2 separate regions of the Homo sapiens genome follow, and region 2 is linked to region 1. A link means that fine-mapping ties the variant in region 1 to the expression of a gene that starts in the linked region. Tissue or cell type: whole blood. Region 1 holds a variant in brackets; the other region holds the start of a gene. All regions are shown on one strand. Distances are from middle to middle.

Region 1 (8,093 bases):
GTTGCCCAGGCTGGTCTCAAACTCCTGGACTCAAGCAGTCAACTCACCTAAGTGCCGGGATTACCGGTGTGCCACCATGCCCAACCTGAACTGGCTTTTTTTTCTTTTTTTTTTTTTTAACTTGCCCACCAGACCTGTCCATTCCAGGGAGCCACTGTCTTTATAGCATTCACACAGAGTTGCCAGGGGAAGGCAAAGCATTTTTGGAGCCCCTCTTTGGAGAAATAACAGTCACTACAAGTTACAGATAATGAGGAAGACACATGTGGAGGAGGAATCCAAAGTTTATTTCTCCATGAATGAGGCGGGCTTTCTAGAGACTTGGTTCACCAGTGACTCTTGTCATTGGTCTTGTGGGTCCTGTCCCTCTCTTCCAGGACGCTGGCTTCTGTATCACAGCCAGCTGGAAGATACTCTTCACAGAGATAGAATCCGTGCAGCTAGAGAGGGGGTGCATTAGTCCTGCCTCCCCTGAATATGTCCTTGACTGACTGGTGAGAGCTGCTAGGGAGTTGACAGAGGGCAAGGACAATGACACAAGCACCTGCTAGGCTCCAGAGCACCAGGGACATAGGGCAGGATGCTCCCATTTGATGTTCGTTAAGGTGCTCTGGCAGGGCGAGGGAACAGTCTGACATATCTCTCTTTGGAAGCAGGAATCCCCCGGCCCCCTCACCCATCCGAGCTGTCACCGTATTACCCACTCTCTCCCGGAGCTGTCGGACAAATCCCCCACCCCCTCGGCTGGCTCGTCCCACAGTAAGGAACCCACAGCCTCTCTTCCCCCTGCTCCCTCCTTGCGCTGAGCTCTGCCTCTGTGCCCTGCGCGCCCTGCACAGTGGAGCCCCCTCAGAGGCAAGCCCAGGACTAGGCCTCCCTGCCCCCGCCCAGGCAGCGTGCTCCCAGCATTACCTTCCCGCTTCCTTCCCATATTTCTCATCCCTTCTTCCCAAGTGCCTCTCTTCCTCTGCCCTGAGCTTTCCCAATATGCTGACCAGATTTCCTCCCCCTCACAGGCAAGGCCAGCCCATGTACTCCCTTCCTCCCGGTGGCTTCCGGCACCCTTACCCCGCCCTCGCCATGAACGCCTCGATGTCCAGGTGAGTCCCGGGGCTGGGGCTGTCCGCATGTTTGTCTTAGCAACCACGCCATTTCTGACCACGAAACAGCTTTTTCTTGCCAGTTAATGAGCAGGCACAGGGCTCACCCTCCCCCCACCTCTCTTTGATCAAGCATCTTCTCACGTCCCGCGCTCCCCACCCCCAGGTCAGAATGGAGACCACAGGATCACTGTCCCCATCTCTCCAACAGAAGGATTGCAAAGCCCTAGCACTCTGCCTCCTGCCATGGGCTCTGGCACTGAAGCATTTTGAGGACAGATGCTCCCCGACTTAGGATGGAGCCGCGTCCTGATAAACCCGTCGTACATTGAAAACACAACTTTCCCCTTAGAATATTTGCAACATATGATGGTTTTATCCAGACATAACCCCATCTAGGTCAAGGAGAGTACTGAATTAATATCGTTTTTGCACCATCGTAAAGTCAAAATATCCTAAGTCACGGACTGTCTGTATATCACACTGAAGCTAGGGACTGGGAGAAGATGAATTTTTCCTGAAATGATGTCAGGAGAGGAGACGGTGAAAGGGGATTTCTGTCTCAGGGACCAGCTCTACCTGACAGTGGAACCTCTGAGGACAGAGGAAAGCTGCCCACAGCCTAAGCCCTTCTTTTCCCCAGTATGCCCGGGCCTCTGACCCTCCTCCCCTTTTGTGTGTTTCATCCCACCTGCTTCCAGCACCAGATGGGCAGCCTGGGTGTTGGTGGGGAGAAGGAAGAGCCATTAAGCATCTCCCAAACCTGGTTTTCTAGAAGACGACAAATAGCCTTCTAGTCCTGAGACTCTGCCCCACGGACATGCCTGTGCCCTTAAGGCAGAGAGCCACCGTGTCCTCTGCTGGGTGGCAGGTATCCAGCCTGAACCCCTCTGTTGCCATTTGTTTCTATCCGGTGCACAGCCTGGTCTCCAGTCGGTTCTCTCCTCACATGGTGGCTCCTGCCCACCCTGGCCTGCCCACCTCAGGGATCCCCCACCCTGCCATCGTCTCCCCCATCGTCAAGCAGGAACCGGCACCCCCCAGCCTGAGCCCTGCAGTGAGCGTGTAAGTAAGCGGCAGCCTGGATTCAGGTGGGAGGGTGCAGGCTGTGGGGAGGGGTGGCCACACTCTGAGCAGCAAATGTCATGTACTCTTCTCTCTTGGTGTCACTCAGCAGGCATCACAGCCTCCCCAGCCAGGCCCTCCCTCTTCCTCGGGACTTACTCCCTCTGACCTTCTGGGTCCCTGTCCTTTCAGGGACATGGTGCATCTTCTCTCTTATTAAGGAAAGTTTTACTGTCAGGTCTCAGAGGCTGAAAGAGAACCTGAGAAAGCTTTTAACACCCCACCGTAAGATATATGAAAAGGTGAGGCCCAGAAAGGAGACAGTGTTTTCTTAAGGACTTGTGGTGGGCTGGTGGCCGAGCTGAGATGAGCACCAGGGTCCTTACCTTGCCCGTGTACCATAAAGATGGCAGGAAGCCAAAGTCAGTGCTCCCTGGAGATCCCAAGAGAACCCCCTCCCAACTTGGTTCTGCCCAGAGTGCCCCACACTGTGTCCTGTCACCGCCGCCAGCACCTGCCAGCTCCAGTGAGAGCTCATCTCAGCAACCCCACCATGCTCTGTTCCTCTGTCAGGAAATTGGAGAGTAGATTTTCAAAGAATCTGGCGTGGAGATCGTTCAAAGGTGGGAAACTACGGGAGGAAGGTACTCAGGTGTTGAGTGCAGCCATGGGGCCACTTGAATTAGCATCCAGGCAGCCCGCGCCCCTCCCCAGAGACAATCAGCGGTGTTTCAGTGACAGGTGGGGATTGATGAGTTGTGTGACACCTGACATGCTAACCTACAACCACGTGCCTTCCCAGGAAATCACCAGTCACCGTGAAAAAGGAGGAGGAAAAGAAGCCCCACGTGAAGAAGCCTCTGAATGCCTTCATGTTGTATATGAAGGAGATGAGGGCCAAGGTGGTGGCTGAGTGCACCCTGAAGGAAAGTGCAGCCATTAACCAGATCCTTGGAAGAAAGGTAAGACCTGCCCTCTCCCTCCAGGCCAGGGAGGCAGCGTCCCTGCATTGATGGCTCCGTGTGGTCTCTGACCCTCTCTCCCCCAGTGGCACAACCTGTCTCGAGAAGAACAGGCCAAGTACTACGAGCTGGCCCGGAAGGAGCGGCAGCTTCACTCGCAGCTCTACCCAACCTGGTCAGCCCGGGACAACTATGTAAGTGCACACTCTGGGCAGAGGACGCTCAGACCCCAGGAACAGCCTCTGCAAGAGGAGGAAGGGTGAAGGAAAGCAACTGCATTTATTTTTATTTATTTTATTTTCTTTTATTTTTTGAGACAGAGGCTCACCCTGTCACCCAGGCTGGAGTGCATGCAGTGGCGCGATCTCGGCTCACTGCAAGCTCCGCCTCCCCGGTTCACACCATTCTCCTGTCTCAGCCTCCCGAGTAGCTGGGACTACAGGCACCTGCCACCACACCCGGCTAATTTTTTGTATTTTTAGTAGAGACGGGGTTTCACTGTGTTAACCAGGATGGTCTCGAGCTCCTGACCTCGTGATCCGCCCACCTCGGCCTCCCAAAGCGCTGGGATTACAGGCGTGAGCCACCGCGCCCGGCCAGCGACTGCATTTATAGAGGACTCTTAAGATCAGGGAGAAGCCCATACTTCTCTAGAAATAAGGAAGGTGTTTTAATTCTCAGGAGGTCAACAAGTCCTGAGGACGGACTTCAGTTGATGCATTTCCCTTTGAACTGGACTCTGCCCTCGATTTCATAACACAGGGCACGGGGTTAGCTGTGGTAGGAAGAGTTGTCTCCAGCCACTCCTAACCCAGGGCTCAAAGACCAGTGTGTGAGCCTCAGGGGGC[G/A]TGTCTCTAAGCTCCCGGAAACCAAGCCAATTTTCGCATGCGTGTTCTTCTTTGCTTTTTTTCTGGTAAGAGGACCCACAGTTGCATCAAACTTTCAAAGGGACCTGGGACCCCTCAGAAAAGATCTAGAAGCACTGTTCTAGGGAGAGAAACAGAAAAACAGAGTCTGAAGGGCAGTGGAGGGAGGAGGCCTTCCAAGAAGGCCTGGACACCCGACCTGGAGGGGAAACGCGTTTGTAGGGGAGGAAGGGCTCCCTCTGCCTCCTCACGGGCTCCCACGGCTGTGATCTGAATTATCTCTCCACACTCTCCCTGAGGGATCGAGAGCAGTAAAGGGCAACGTCCTGTCTTCTCTCTGATCTGGGAGCCCCTGAGAAGCCAGCATTCTTCTCTCCCAGCTTACCTCTTCCTTTGGCTGTATTTTCCAGGGTAAGAAAAAGAAGAGGAAGAGAGAAAAGCAGCTGTCCCAGACACAGTCACAGCAGCAAGTCCAGGAGGCAGAGGGTGCGTCTCGGGGCACTGGCCTCTTCTCCTGCTTTTCCTTTTGTCACAGCCACACCTGCCCATGCTGTCTCTAGCTCCCTGATGGGTCAGGGCTTCTGCCTCGGTATTCGCGGGCGGGTATTATTACCCCTTTCTCGAGGTGGCCACTTAAGAGGCTCTGAGATGTGAAGGCATTTTCCCAGGCACTCTGCTTCAGTGGTGGTGGTAGGATTTGATCCCAGGACTTTGTCACTTCAAAGCCTAGACAATCTAATTCCATTGAAAAGTGAATCATCCTACCTGAGGGTTAATGGAATGAGGTTGAAATTGTCTTTGAAATACCCTTAGGAAGGCAGCACATGAGCCCCTGACATCCCACCTGTCAGTGGATCCAGGGGAGCCCGGGTTTCCTTGGATGTTTCTTTGGTTGAACACCAGAAAAAATTAGTTTGCTTGGGTTTAGGAGGCACTTTGTGTCAAAACCATGTATAAAATCTCTATATTACCAGAATCATGCCTAGCACAGAAAGATGCTCACACTGTGACGATTATTATTAATATTTAGGTCACGCCCCCCATCTCATGCTCACTCCAGGACAAGTGTATCGCTGCTTGCACGATGTAAAGTGCTTTCAATCTCTCTTCTTCATTCCTCCCTCCCTCCCTTTCTTCCTCCCTCCCTTTCACCTTCCCTCCCATTCTCCTTCCCTCCCTTTCCCCTTCCCTCCCTCCTTTTCTCCCTCCCTTTCTCTTTCCCTCCCTCTCTTTCCCTCCCTCTCCCCCTCCTTCCCTCCCTTCCCCCCCTCCCTTTCTTCTTCCCTCGCTTTCTCCTTCCGCCCTCCCTTTCTCCTTCCCTCCCTCCCTATTTCCTTGCCTCCCCTCCTCCCTTCCTTCCTTCCTTCCATTATACATAGGAGCGCACATGAGTGGAACCCGTACCTGCTACAGAACCCGCTGTCTGGCACGCTGTTCAGCAGGCATGCACTCTCTCTGACTGTATTAATACCATAAACCAAAGATTTCAAAGCAAACTGGAGATTCATCCCAAAAGTTACCAGCTTTAGGAAAGGAGGGTGGTCCTGTGAGACACTGAGCCGTCTTCTCTCCGATCTGATGCTGGGTGGATCTTCATCAGTTTGGGCGTTGCCTCTTCTCTGTGCTCTGGGTATTTGTGAATGCAGTTTCCTAGTCTTGAAAGCCTTGGAAGTAATGTCAGGTCCTCGCCAAAATCATCCCTGTGTCTCCAAAGCACATGTATCGCCAGGGCTGTTCCTCAGCCTCCTCCTCTCACAGAGCTATAGCTGCTCACTCTTTCTTGTATTTTCCCCCTAGGTGCCCTGGCCTCCAAGAGCAAGAAGCCATGTGTTCAGTACCTGCCCCCCGAGAAGCCCTGTGACAGCCCTGCCTCCTCCCACGGGAGCATGCTGGACTCCCCGGCCACTCCCTCTGCAGCTTTGGCCTCACCAGCTGCCCCTGCTGCCACCCATTCGGAGCAAGCCCAGCCCCTCTCCCTCACCACCAAACCAGAAACCCGGGCCCAGCTGGCTCTCCACTCTGCCGCCTTCCTGTCGGCTAAGGCTGCAGCCTCCTCCTCTGGGCAGATGGGCAGCCAGCCTCCCCTCCTGTCCCGGCCCCTCCCCCTTGGGTCCATGCCCACAGCTCTGCTGGCCTCTCCCCCGTCCTTCCCCGCCACGCTCCATGCCCACCAGGCCCTCCCGGTGCTACAGGCCCAGCCTCTTTCCCTGGTCACCAAGTCTGCCCACTAAGCTCCCCCCGACCCCTGCAGGCTGTCACATGACTCATTGAGTAGTAATGATTCAGAAGAAAAAGAAAAAGGAGACTTTATTGGTCAATATTTGACCACTCTGGACTGTTCTGTAAAGTGGCTGGTAACAACAGCACTTTACAGTTTGTAGATGTAACCAGTAGCTGATCTTAAGGCTTTTTTAAAAAACAAAACAAAACAACAAAAAAAAATCTTTATAAGAAAGAGAACTGAAAAGTAGCGTGCTATTCGTCCTGTAGGTGCTGTGGTGGATGGACCTGGGCAGAGGGCACTTCTCTCTCTTACCTCTCTTGCACTTTCTGTCTCCTGTCTCTTCTCGCCCCTGCCGCCTGCCCCAGCTTCCCCGACTCCATCTGCAGCTCTGCCATTGTGACATTTCCTGTTACCCAGCCCAAGTTTTCATCGTCTGCTCAATACCGTGGGTTCTTCTTCGTCCTCTGTCCTCTGCCCAGTGTGAGGCCATCACCATGTGAGAAGACATCTTGGCCTGATTTGCTGCCACCAGCGTCCCCTCCCTCAGTGGGCCCGAACTCGCCAGCCCCAGCTTTCAGTGGAGAAAGCGGTCCTCTGAAATGGTTTCCTCCCAACCCCCGCATTTAAAGGGACTCAAGGTGCCTGCCACTTCCTCAGCGAAGAAGTCTGTGTTCCTCCCCGTCCTTGCCAGTGGCGATCATCCCTTCACAATCCCAGAGTGGCAGGCGGGACCGGCCCCATGGTCTGGCTCCTGTCACCTGGGTCCGTGCCAGCACAATCTGCCAAAGTTCTAGAGACCCTGTTCCCTTCCCCATCACCTCACATGCTTCTTCTGTGTGTATTTCTTTTTGTTTTTATGGTTTTTGGAGCAATTTAAACTCCCAGTTGTTTATTTTCACAAAAGAAAATAAAATTGCAGTTGCAAGACCTTTTCTGAGTGTTTCTTTAGTGCTTTTGTTGAATCAAACCACCTGTTTGTTTCACTCCCAAACCCTGTGTTAGACTTTCGCAGATATGCAAAGGAAGATTGCCACTTGCCACAGGGGAATGTTAGGCATGCCTGACACCCTTAGAAAACCTGAACCCAGCTTCCTGTCTCAAATGTGCATGGGCCAGTCAGTGTCCATGACTGAGCTGCAAAGGGGGTAATCATTTTCACAGCTGATTTAAATGAATTTGCCGCCTGGAATGACATTCAGCTTATGCTTCTATCACCCATTTGACTCGTAATTGCCAAGATGTGAGGAAGCATCTTTTGGATACTTTCCATAGTATCTAGCACCACAATTAATTTTTTGTAACAGCTTTATGGAGATATACTTCAGCCATTTAAAGTTACACTTCACCCATTTAAAGTATACAGTTCAGCTGGGCAGAGCCGCTCTTGCCTATAATCCCAATGCTTTGAGAGGCTGAGGCAGGAAGATGACTTGAGGCCAGGAGTTCAGGACTAGCCTGGGCAACATAGCAAGACCTGATCTCTTTAAAAAAAAAAAAAAAAGCAACTAGCTGGGGATGGTGGCACACAAGCCTGTAGTCCCAGCTTCTCAGGAGGCTGAGGCAGGAGGATTGCTTGAGCTCAGGAGCTCAAGACTGCAGTGAGTTATGATTGTGCCACTGCATTCCAGCCTTCTCAACAGAGTAAGACTCTGCCTCAAACAAAAAAGGTATACAATTCAGGCTGGGTGCGATGGCTCACACCTGTAATCCTAGCACTTTGGGAGGCCGAGGCGGGTGGATCACCTGAGGTCAGGAGTTCGAGACCAGCCTGGCCAACATGGCGAAACCCCGTCTCTACTAAAAATACAAAAATTAGCCAGGCATGATGGTGCGCACCTGTAATCCCAGCTACTTGGGAGGCTGAGACAGGAGAATC
Region 2 (8,089 bases), 170 kb before region 1:
GGGTTTCACCGTGTTGACCAGGATGGTCTTGAATTTCTGACCTCAGGTGATCCACCCGCCTCGGCCTCCCAAAGTGCTGGGATTACAGCCGTGAGCCACTGCGCCTGGCCCTTATGATCTTTTTCAACCACTTAAAAATGTAAAAAAAGCGGCCGGGCGACGTGGCTCACACCTGTAAAACCAGCACTTGGGCGGATCACCTGAGGTCAGGAATTCGAGACCAGCCTGGTCAACATGGAGAAACCCCGTCTCTACTAAAAATACAAAATTAGCCGGGCGTGGTGGTGCATGCCTACATTCCCAGCTACTCAGGAGGCTGAAGCAGGAAAATTGCTTGAACTCGGGAGGTGGAGGTTGCAGTGAGCCGAGATGGCACCATTGCACTCCAGTCTGGGCAACAAGAGTGAAACTCCGTCTCAAAAAAAAAAAAAAAAAAGTAAAAAAAAAAAGTCTTAGCTGAGACCATTCAAAAACAGGCAGCAAGCTGTAGTATGCTGCTCTAGATGGTTGTTTTTGGTTTGGCCTCTATGCCTGGTGCTACAAATCACCAAATTCTCTGAGGGGATGAAACAGCAGTGAATACAAACTCGCTTGAATGAATTTCCCTTCTGGTATTTTGACTCCTCACGTCCTGGCTGACTTGGTTGACAGTGATGCCTTCAACTCAGCTGGGTTTTGTTGTTTTATTTTGGTATTTTATCCAGTTTATAGTTAGTTGTTCTTGATGAAGGAGTCAATCTGACATCAATACCCCATTAGAATGGGAAGTGGAAGTCTACATGTTAATTTTAATTTGCTACTTTTGCTTACCATTATGAGCCTCCTTCTATATTGACAAATATATCTCCACAATGTCATAACATTCCATTAGATGAATGCACCATGATTTAACTTAATAATTCCCTATAGGGGACATTGAAATTGTTTCTAGATTTTTTCACTGTGATGAACACACTTCTACAGGTTTATTTTTGTACCTAGTTGTTTCCTTCAGATAAAATCCTAGAAGTACGTGGATAAGTCAAAGGGTTCACACTTTTAAAGGTATTTCACAGGTATTACCAAACTTCTCTTTAGAACTGTTACACAATGGCCCAGCATCTATGTGCTTCTTAGTATAGGGGCCAATGCTGGGTGTTACCATTCTTTTCTTCCTTTGCCAATCTGACAGATGAAAACTGGTTATCTCAATGCTGTTTCCGTTTGCATTTCTGGTTTATAGGTGTGGCAGGCTGATAATGGCTTACTCCCAAAGCTGCATCTATGACCTAATCCCTGGAAACTGTGAATGTTTAAGGAAAAGAGGTCTTTGCAGATATGAAGTTAAGGATTTTGACATGGACAGGTTATCCAGGTGGTCCTTAAATGCTATCACAAGTATCACTTTTTTTTTTTTTTTTTTTTTTTTGAGACAGAGTCTCACTCTGTCGCCAAGGCCGGAGTGCAGTGGTGCCATCTCAGCTCACTGCAACCTCCTCCCTCCAAATTCAAGCGATTCTCCTGCCTCAGCCTCCCAAGTAGCGGGGATTACAGGCGCCTGCCACCACACCTGGCCAATTTTTTGTATTTTTGGTAGAGACAGGGTTTCACCATGTTGGCCAGGCTGGTCTGGAACTCCTGACCTCGTGATCCACCTGCCTTGGTTTCCCAAAGAGCTGGGATTACAGGCGTGAGCCACTGTGCCCGGCCACAAGTATGGTTTCTTACAAGAAGGGGGCAGAGGAAAATTTGTCACAGACAAAAAAAGGAGAAGGCAATGTGATTACAGACGCAAGGGTGGGAGTGATGTGGTCACAAGCCCCCAGAAGCTGCAAGAGACAAGGGTAGATTCTTTTCGGAGCCTCCAGAGGGAGCATGGCCCCGTCAACACCTCCATTTCTACTCAGTGAAACTGACAGTGGACTTCTGTCTTCCACAACTATGAGAGGATAAACTTCTGTTGTTTTAAGCCACCAAGTTTTCGTGATTTGTGACAGTAGCAGCAGAAAACTAGTACAATAGGTTTTTCATATATTTATGGACCATAAACATGAAAAATCGTCTGACTTTTAAATCTTATAAAAATAAAATAACACACAATAATACAAAGAGTATGATTCTATGTATGTACATCAGAATATCTGTAAATACGTTTACATATGTTCATAACTGCCTAGGAAAGTGTCTGGAAGGATATATACCAAACTAGTGACAGTGGTTAACCAGAGGCAGTTAACTGAAAGTGGTTAATTAGAAGGGTCCTGTGTCCTGAGGGGGAAAGAGGAACTTTTACTTGTTACTCGATACTGCTCAAGATACATCTGTTATTTGAAAACGCTTTATGAGACTGTACTCATGTATTGTGTAAAAAATTAGAAAAGGCATATCTGCTTGTTATAAAGTTCATAGAAACCAGAAAACTATCTCCTTTCACTTATCCTTTCCCAGAAATAGTCATTGATAATAATTTGCATCTTCTCAGATTTTTTTCTACGCAGAAATAAATGTGTATAATTTTTTTAAAAACAAAAATAAAATAGTGAGTGTCATATATAGTGTTTCATTTAAAGATGTTCCTCCAAAATCAATCTTGGTCCATGTGCCTGTGTGTGTGTGTGTGTGTGTGTGTGTGTGTGTGTGTGTGTGTGTGTGTATGGGTGGGGGGAGGGGCGGGGACACTGCATAGAACTGGCCAGCTGCATGGACTGTCACTGTAAAGAAAGATGAAGAATGCATGTCACCAAGCTCTCTGATGCTTTGAACCTAGCATATGTGGCTTTGCCCATATGTGCGGGCACCTCTGTAGAAACTCTTCTGCCAGTTGGGCTGAAAATAGTTTTACATAGTTCCATACTGCCTTCCAAGCTGTTTTCAAAGTTTATGCTCTAATAGTTCCCCACGGAGGATAACACAAGATATTCATTTTCCTCAAACTTTCCCGCACAGGTTGGAGAGAAACGACATCTTAATGTCATTGTAACAGGCATTTCTTTATTAAAAAAATTTTTTTTTTGGAGACAAGGTCTTGCTATGTTGCCCAGGCTGGTCTCAAACTCCTGGGCTCCAGCGATCCTCCTGCCTAGGCCTCGGGAGTAGATGGAACTCCAGGCGCGGGCCGTGGCGCTCGCACCACAGGCATTACTTAGGTATGAGGCTGGTTGAGCATTTTTCTCGTGTTCACTGGCTACTCACGCAGCTTTGTGAATGGCTTCGGAGATCACTGGACAGGCAATTTTCCCTCTCAATGAACCAAATCCAAATTCTTTTGGAACCCAAGACCGCGATTTTTCGATTTAGGACCTAGTCCCAAACAATGAAGAAAAGGTGATCTTCAAGATTTCAGCAGGGAAATCTGTATATCTGTACAAGGTTGAAAACCTGGGCCGGGGGTCGCGTTGGAACCCCACAGGAAAAAGGCGCGGAAAGCCGCCGGGCATTTTCCGGGGTTCCATAGATGTCCCCAGTGTCCTAGTCCGTGCATCAGCTCGCGCACTCGGAGGGACTCTAGGCAGGGGGAGGGCCCCGCGGCCAGTATGTGCGTCCGAGGCTTTCCCGCAGGGGGCAGTGCCGCCCGCCCGCGCGCCGATACGGTGGGAGGGGGTGGGAACCTGCGCGGAGTTCTGGAGGTTCTTTGGGAGAAAGTTAGGGGATGCGGAGGGGTGGGCGCAAGACTTCCAGGACTCCAGGGAGGCCGTGGGGAGGGCCGCCGAGGGTGCAGTGTGAGGCGCAGGAGGGGGTTGGGGGCGGTGCACGTTGCAGGGAGACGCAGCCCCTGGAAGATGCGAGTGTGAACGTGTGAGTGTGAGTGCGTGTGTATGTGTGTGTGTGCGCGCGCACCGCAGCTCTCCGGGTTCCGCGAGGCGCGCGGGTGTCAGCTTGCAGCCGGGGCTCCTCCCTCCGGCCCCCCTGCCCAGCCCGGCGGTCCCTCCTCCCTCCCTCCCCGCTCGCCCCTCCCCGGCGGGCCAGGGGCTGGGACGCCCCGGCGGAGCAGGCGGCGGCGGTGGCGAGTTGGGGAGCCCTAGGCTCGGCGCTGCCGGAGGGGCCCGAGCCGAGCCGCCTGCGCCCCGGCCGGGCAGCGCCGGGCCCGCTTCCCGCGGGGCCACGCCCTGTCAAACTTTGTTGCGGCGGCTAGCGCAGCGGGCCCGCAAGCGGGCGGGAGGGGCGCCGGGCCGGGCCGGGCAGGGCGCGGGCGGCTAGGGGCTCCGAGAGCGGCGGCCCCGGCCCGCGGCCCCACCATGCCCCAGCTCGGCGGCGGGGGCGGCGGCGGCGGCGGCGGCAGCGGGGGAGGCGGCGGCTCCAGCGCCGGGGCGGCCGGCGGAGGGGACGACCTCGGGGCGAACGACGAGCTGATCCCCTTCCAGGACGAGGGGGGCGAGGAGCAGGAGCCGAGCAGCGATAGCGCCTCGGCGCAGCGGGACCTAGACGAGGTCAAGTCGTCCCTGGTCAACGAGTCGGAGAACCAGAGCAGCAGCTCGGACTCGGAGGTAAGGAAGCACCGCGGCCACCCCCGGGGGATCCCGGCCCTGCGTCCGCTCACCCGCTCTTGCCTTTGTGTCTCCTCCGCAGGCGGAGAGGCGCCCGCAGCCCGTCCGGGACACTTTCCAGAAGCCGCGGGACTATTTCGCCGAAGGTATGTGCCCGCTGGGACAGCCCCCCACTCTCGATTCCCGCTGCGCTCCGCTGCTCAGCCCGGGCGGCCCACCGTCCCCCTTGCTTGGGTGGACGCACCCTTGCCCTCCGCCTTTATTGGCGGCAGCCCCCGTGGGGCGCGCGTGGGGGGCGCTGGGGTCCCCAGCTCCCGCCTCGAGCCCCCTGCCGCGGCGCTGTCAGTCCCGGGGGCCTGGGCCTCACCTCGCCTTGGTCTTGTTCGCAGTGAGAAGGCCTCAGGACAGCGCGTTCTTTAAAGGACCCCCGTACCCTGGGTACCCCTTCCTGATGATCCCGGACCTGAGCAGCCCGTACCTCTCCAACGGACCCCTGTCTCCCGGAGGAGCGCGCACCGTGAGTGCCCGTCGGGCGCGCCGGGGAGGGTGGGAGGCCGCGGCCCGCAGGATGCGCCCCCGGGCTTGGCCATGGAGTGGGGGATGGGGCCTTCTGCGCCGATCCCAAGCAGAACTTGTTTGCGGAGTTGAACTACTCTCTGGCGGCCGAGCGCGAGGCTGCGCTGGCCAGTGCCTGGATGAAAGTAAAGTTACTTTAACTTTTCCCCTCTTGCGGGTTGAGGTTTTGGAGTCCACCTCTGGGATCTTCCTTGGCCTCCAGAATTCTTCGCCTGCACCGAAGGAAACTTGGATTTGTGCCCGCTTTGGGGGGGTCTCGCTTTCCTTCTTGGAAATCGGTCAGCTTTCTCTGGCAGTGGGGCAAGGGGCCTAGGGAGCTGGGTTGGCGACGTTGTCCTCCGACTCCGGGTTCACTGGGCGGCTGCAGGCTGGTTCCTAAGAAACCCAGTTTTCGTGGCGGGTTATTCACAGCCCCCGTTCCCACCCCCAGCCCTCGCACCGGGGCCTCAGCTTTTCTGCGGAGCTAGCTCCGAATTTTAAACTCGCGTAGATGATTTCGAGGCGACCCAAGGCATTCTTCAAGTTGAGGAACTTGGCTTTTTCCCCCTTTTGTCGCCTGCTTTTCTCATTTAAAGCGAGCGCTGCGACACTTTAAACCTGTTAATGGGCGCGTATTGTGTGCTGCCCGCTGGCATTTAGAGCGGTGATTAAGCAAATTGACCGGGCCCCAGACGACGTGCAAATGAGGGCGGATTCCTTCGCCCCCTCTCTCTGGCTCTAAACTCCCGCCCCCCGCGTTGCGAGGGGCGCAGCTGGGGGCTGGCGAGGCCTTTGTGTCCCCCAAGCCGCCACTCCACCCCTAGGCTCCCTGCCCAGGTGCTGGGTCCGATGACAGATGTTGGGTGAACGCCTACCTACTGTGTGCCAGGTTCCCGCGTGCTGCTGCTTGGGCGCGATGTGAATCGTAGTAGTTCTTTGCTTCCCGCCCAGATTCCCATTGCCTGCCACTTCGCTGTCGACGGTGGGTAAGGGGGCAGGGAGTGTTAGCCTCTTAGGAGCAGGGTCCCAGCAACACACTTTATGCTAAGACTGCCCTAAAATAACGACGATAATTAAAGGGTGCTAGAGAAAGGCTAGGTGCTGAATGGCCATTCCTGCTGTCATTGTACAGCGGTCGGTGGAGAGCCAAGTCCTCCACATTTGGTTCAGCGGGGGCGCTACCATCACCAGATGGGTTGGAGGGGGATTGACGGGGGGCGGTGGAAGAGACTCTGACTGAGAGAGAGGGGAATGGGGAGTGGGACTACACAGACCTCACAGTTTTGCCCCGAGAGGGAGGGAGGTCTTGCAGCTTTGGCCCTGCTGGCCTGGAGCACCCCAGGAAGTCCTGAATGTAAGTGTCAGTTTTGCAGTGAAAACTGGATGTGGGTCTATGGCTGTTGCTTTTTCTCATTAAAAGAAAAGAGGTGCGTGCCAATCAAAGGGGGGGGGGGATCAACGAGCTGCTGCGGTCTTATTTAGGTTTTCAGTGATTCCCACCAGTGCCCACACATGTAGCTTAGTTCTGCAAGTTTTGTTGGGATTCGTGTAACTTTGCGTATGGGGGAGAGTTAATGCCGCTAAAGTCTCAGGTTTCCATTTACTATTAGGATATCTAGAGAGAGGGGTCTGGGAGGCACTAGCATCTGTGCATCAGCCCTCAGCCAAGTCCTGATGCAGTTAAAGTCACCAGAAATGACTATTTCACCATCAAATATGACTATGGCTCCCTCAAGGCTATTTCTCCATGCACCCATTTCTCTTTAGGGCATTTTGATTCATCCAGGCTCTGCTGTCTGCTCTCTCTGACAGTCCAAGTGAGACAGATTTTTGTTAGTGTCCCCTCCTTCCTTCCTTCTATCACATTATGTGTTCTTTCGCCTAAGAACTTCCAAAGGCTGATTCTTGCTGATCCTGGAGATTCCTGATTACTAAATCCAGGCCCGTGTGGGATTTTGGAGCCCCTCCTTGAGGCAGCCAACCTTTCGTCTCTGCATGCCTCTCTGACTGTCCTTGTTCATCTCTGCAGTTGTTCCCTGCCCTGGCCCAGGCACCAGCCTCCTTTCAAGCCTCCTAGGACATGTACTTTCTTGGGGACTTAGTATGTCCCATCCCACCCCCATACCTACATCTTGTCTCCCTGGTGACTTGCCCTTACAGAAGTTAGTTCAGTTCCCAGTGTTTCTGTGTCTCTGTGTGCCTTTCGCTGTGTTAGTTCACGGATATACTGGGGAAGTGTCCTGCCCTTAGGTCAGCACAGTTAAACCTAATTTGACCCTGTTCGTTTGCTGCCAGTAAGTAAAGCAAGTGAGGAAACACTTAAGCACTTGGTTGTCTGGACTATAGGGTGGAGATGATGGTTTTCTGCTGAACGATTCTATTAATATAATTAAGATAATTGTCACTGTAGGCAAATGGTAGGTACAGACAAAGTGGCCCTCTGTTGGTTTCCCAGCCTGGTAAAATGAATGTGGATAGATACGAGTGGGGAGGGAGGAGGGAGGAAAGTGCCTGGGATATATGATCCGATCTCTCTGACATCTTAGGTCTTTTTTATTGTTTGGCCTCTAAACTGCACCACTTTAGGCTTTGCTGCTCTAAGGCCTAGAGGTAGTATAAAATTAGGTGACCCCAGTTATCTGCTGCTCTAACACTTCCTCTGGAAATACCAAGCCAGATGCAGAAGTGGGAATTGTCTGGATTGTTTTCAGGGTGTTAATGAACCCTAGGAATAGCAGGCAGGAGGCTTCAGCAGCCTCACCCACTGGCATAATTCCTGCTGAGACCACTGGGGGCTGGCCCATCCTACAGTCTGGCCATCTCTCCCCATGAGCCATCACCCTTGCCCTCCACTCTGGTTTGGCTGGGATGCTGGGAAGTGGCTTTTTCCTGAGGCTCTTTAGAGAAGAGGTCCCCTCAGCATGGGATGTGGGCCAAGTCTCTGTGAGCTGCAATTGCTTCTTGTCTGGAGGCCCTGGGACCCTGTGAAGAGAGGAATAACTGCCACAAACCATTTTTCAAATAATCACCTCAAAATTATACATTCATTTCTGAAAAGGCTTCACGGTTTA

The links. PIP is the estimated chance that this variant, and not a neighbour inherited with it, causes the effect.
Region 2: TCF7L1 starts here. The variant in region 1 is fine-mapped to the expression of TCF7L1 in whole blood (TOPMed, PIP above 0.99).

What each region holds. Positions count from the first base shown.
Region 1 is chr2:85,303,239-85,311,331 of GRCh38, forward strand. TCF7L1 (transcription factor 7 like 1) reads left to right here. Exons shown (of 12, transcript NM_031283.3): 6 at 657-759; 7 at 1,017-1,100; 8 at 2,022-2,165; 9 at 2,968-3,127; 10 at 3,214-3,321; 11 at 4,404-4,479; 12 at 5,791-7,149. The coding sequence ends at 6,224. Among named protein-coding and RNA genes, the nearest start is that of TGOLN2, 21 kb to the right of the region's middle. RefSeq lists enhancers at 2,975-3,475, 6,398-7,281. The variant G/A (reference allele first, on the strand shown) is at 3,976.
Region 2 is chr2:85,129,471-85,137,559 of GRCh38, forward strand. It overlaps TCF7L1 (transcription factor 7 like 1), which reads left to right and starts at 3,922. Exons shown (of 12, transcript NM_031283.3): 1 at 3,922-4,463; 2 at 4,546-4,609; 3 at 4,853-4,980. The coding sequence starts at 4,215. RefSeq lists a silencer at 3,522-3,591 and enhancers at 3,957-4,531, 5,107-5,681, 5,682-6,255.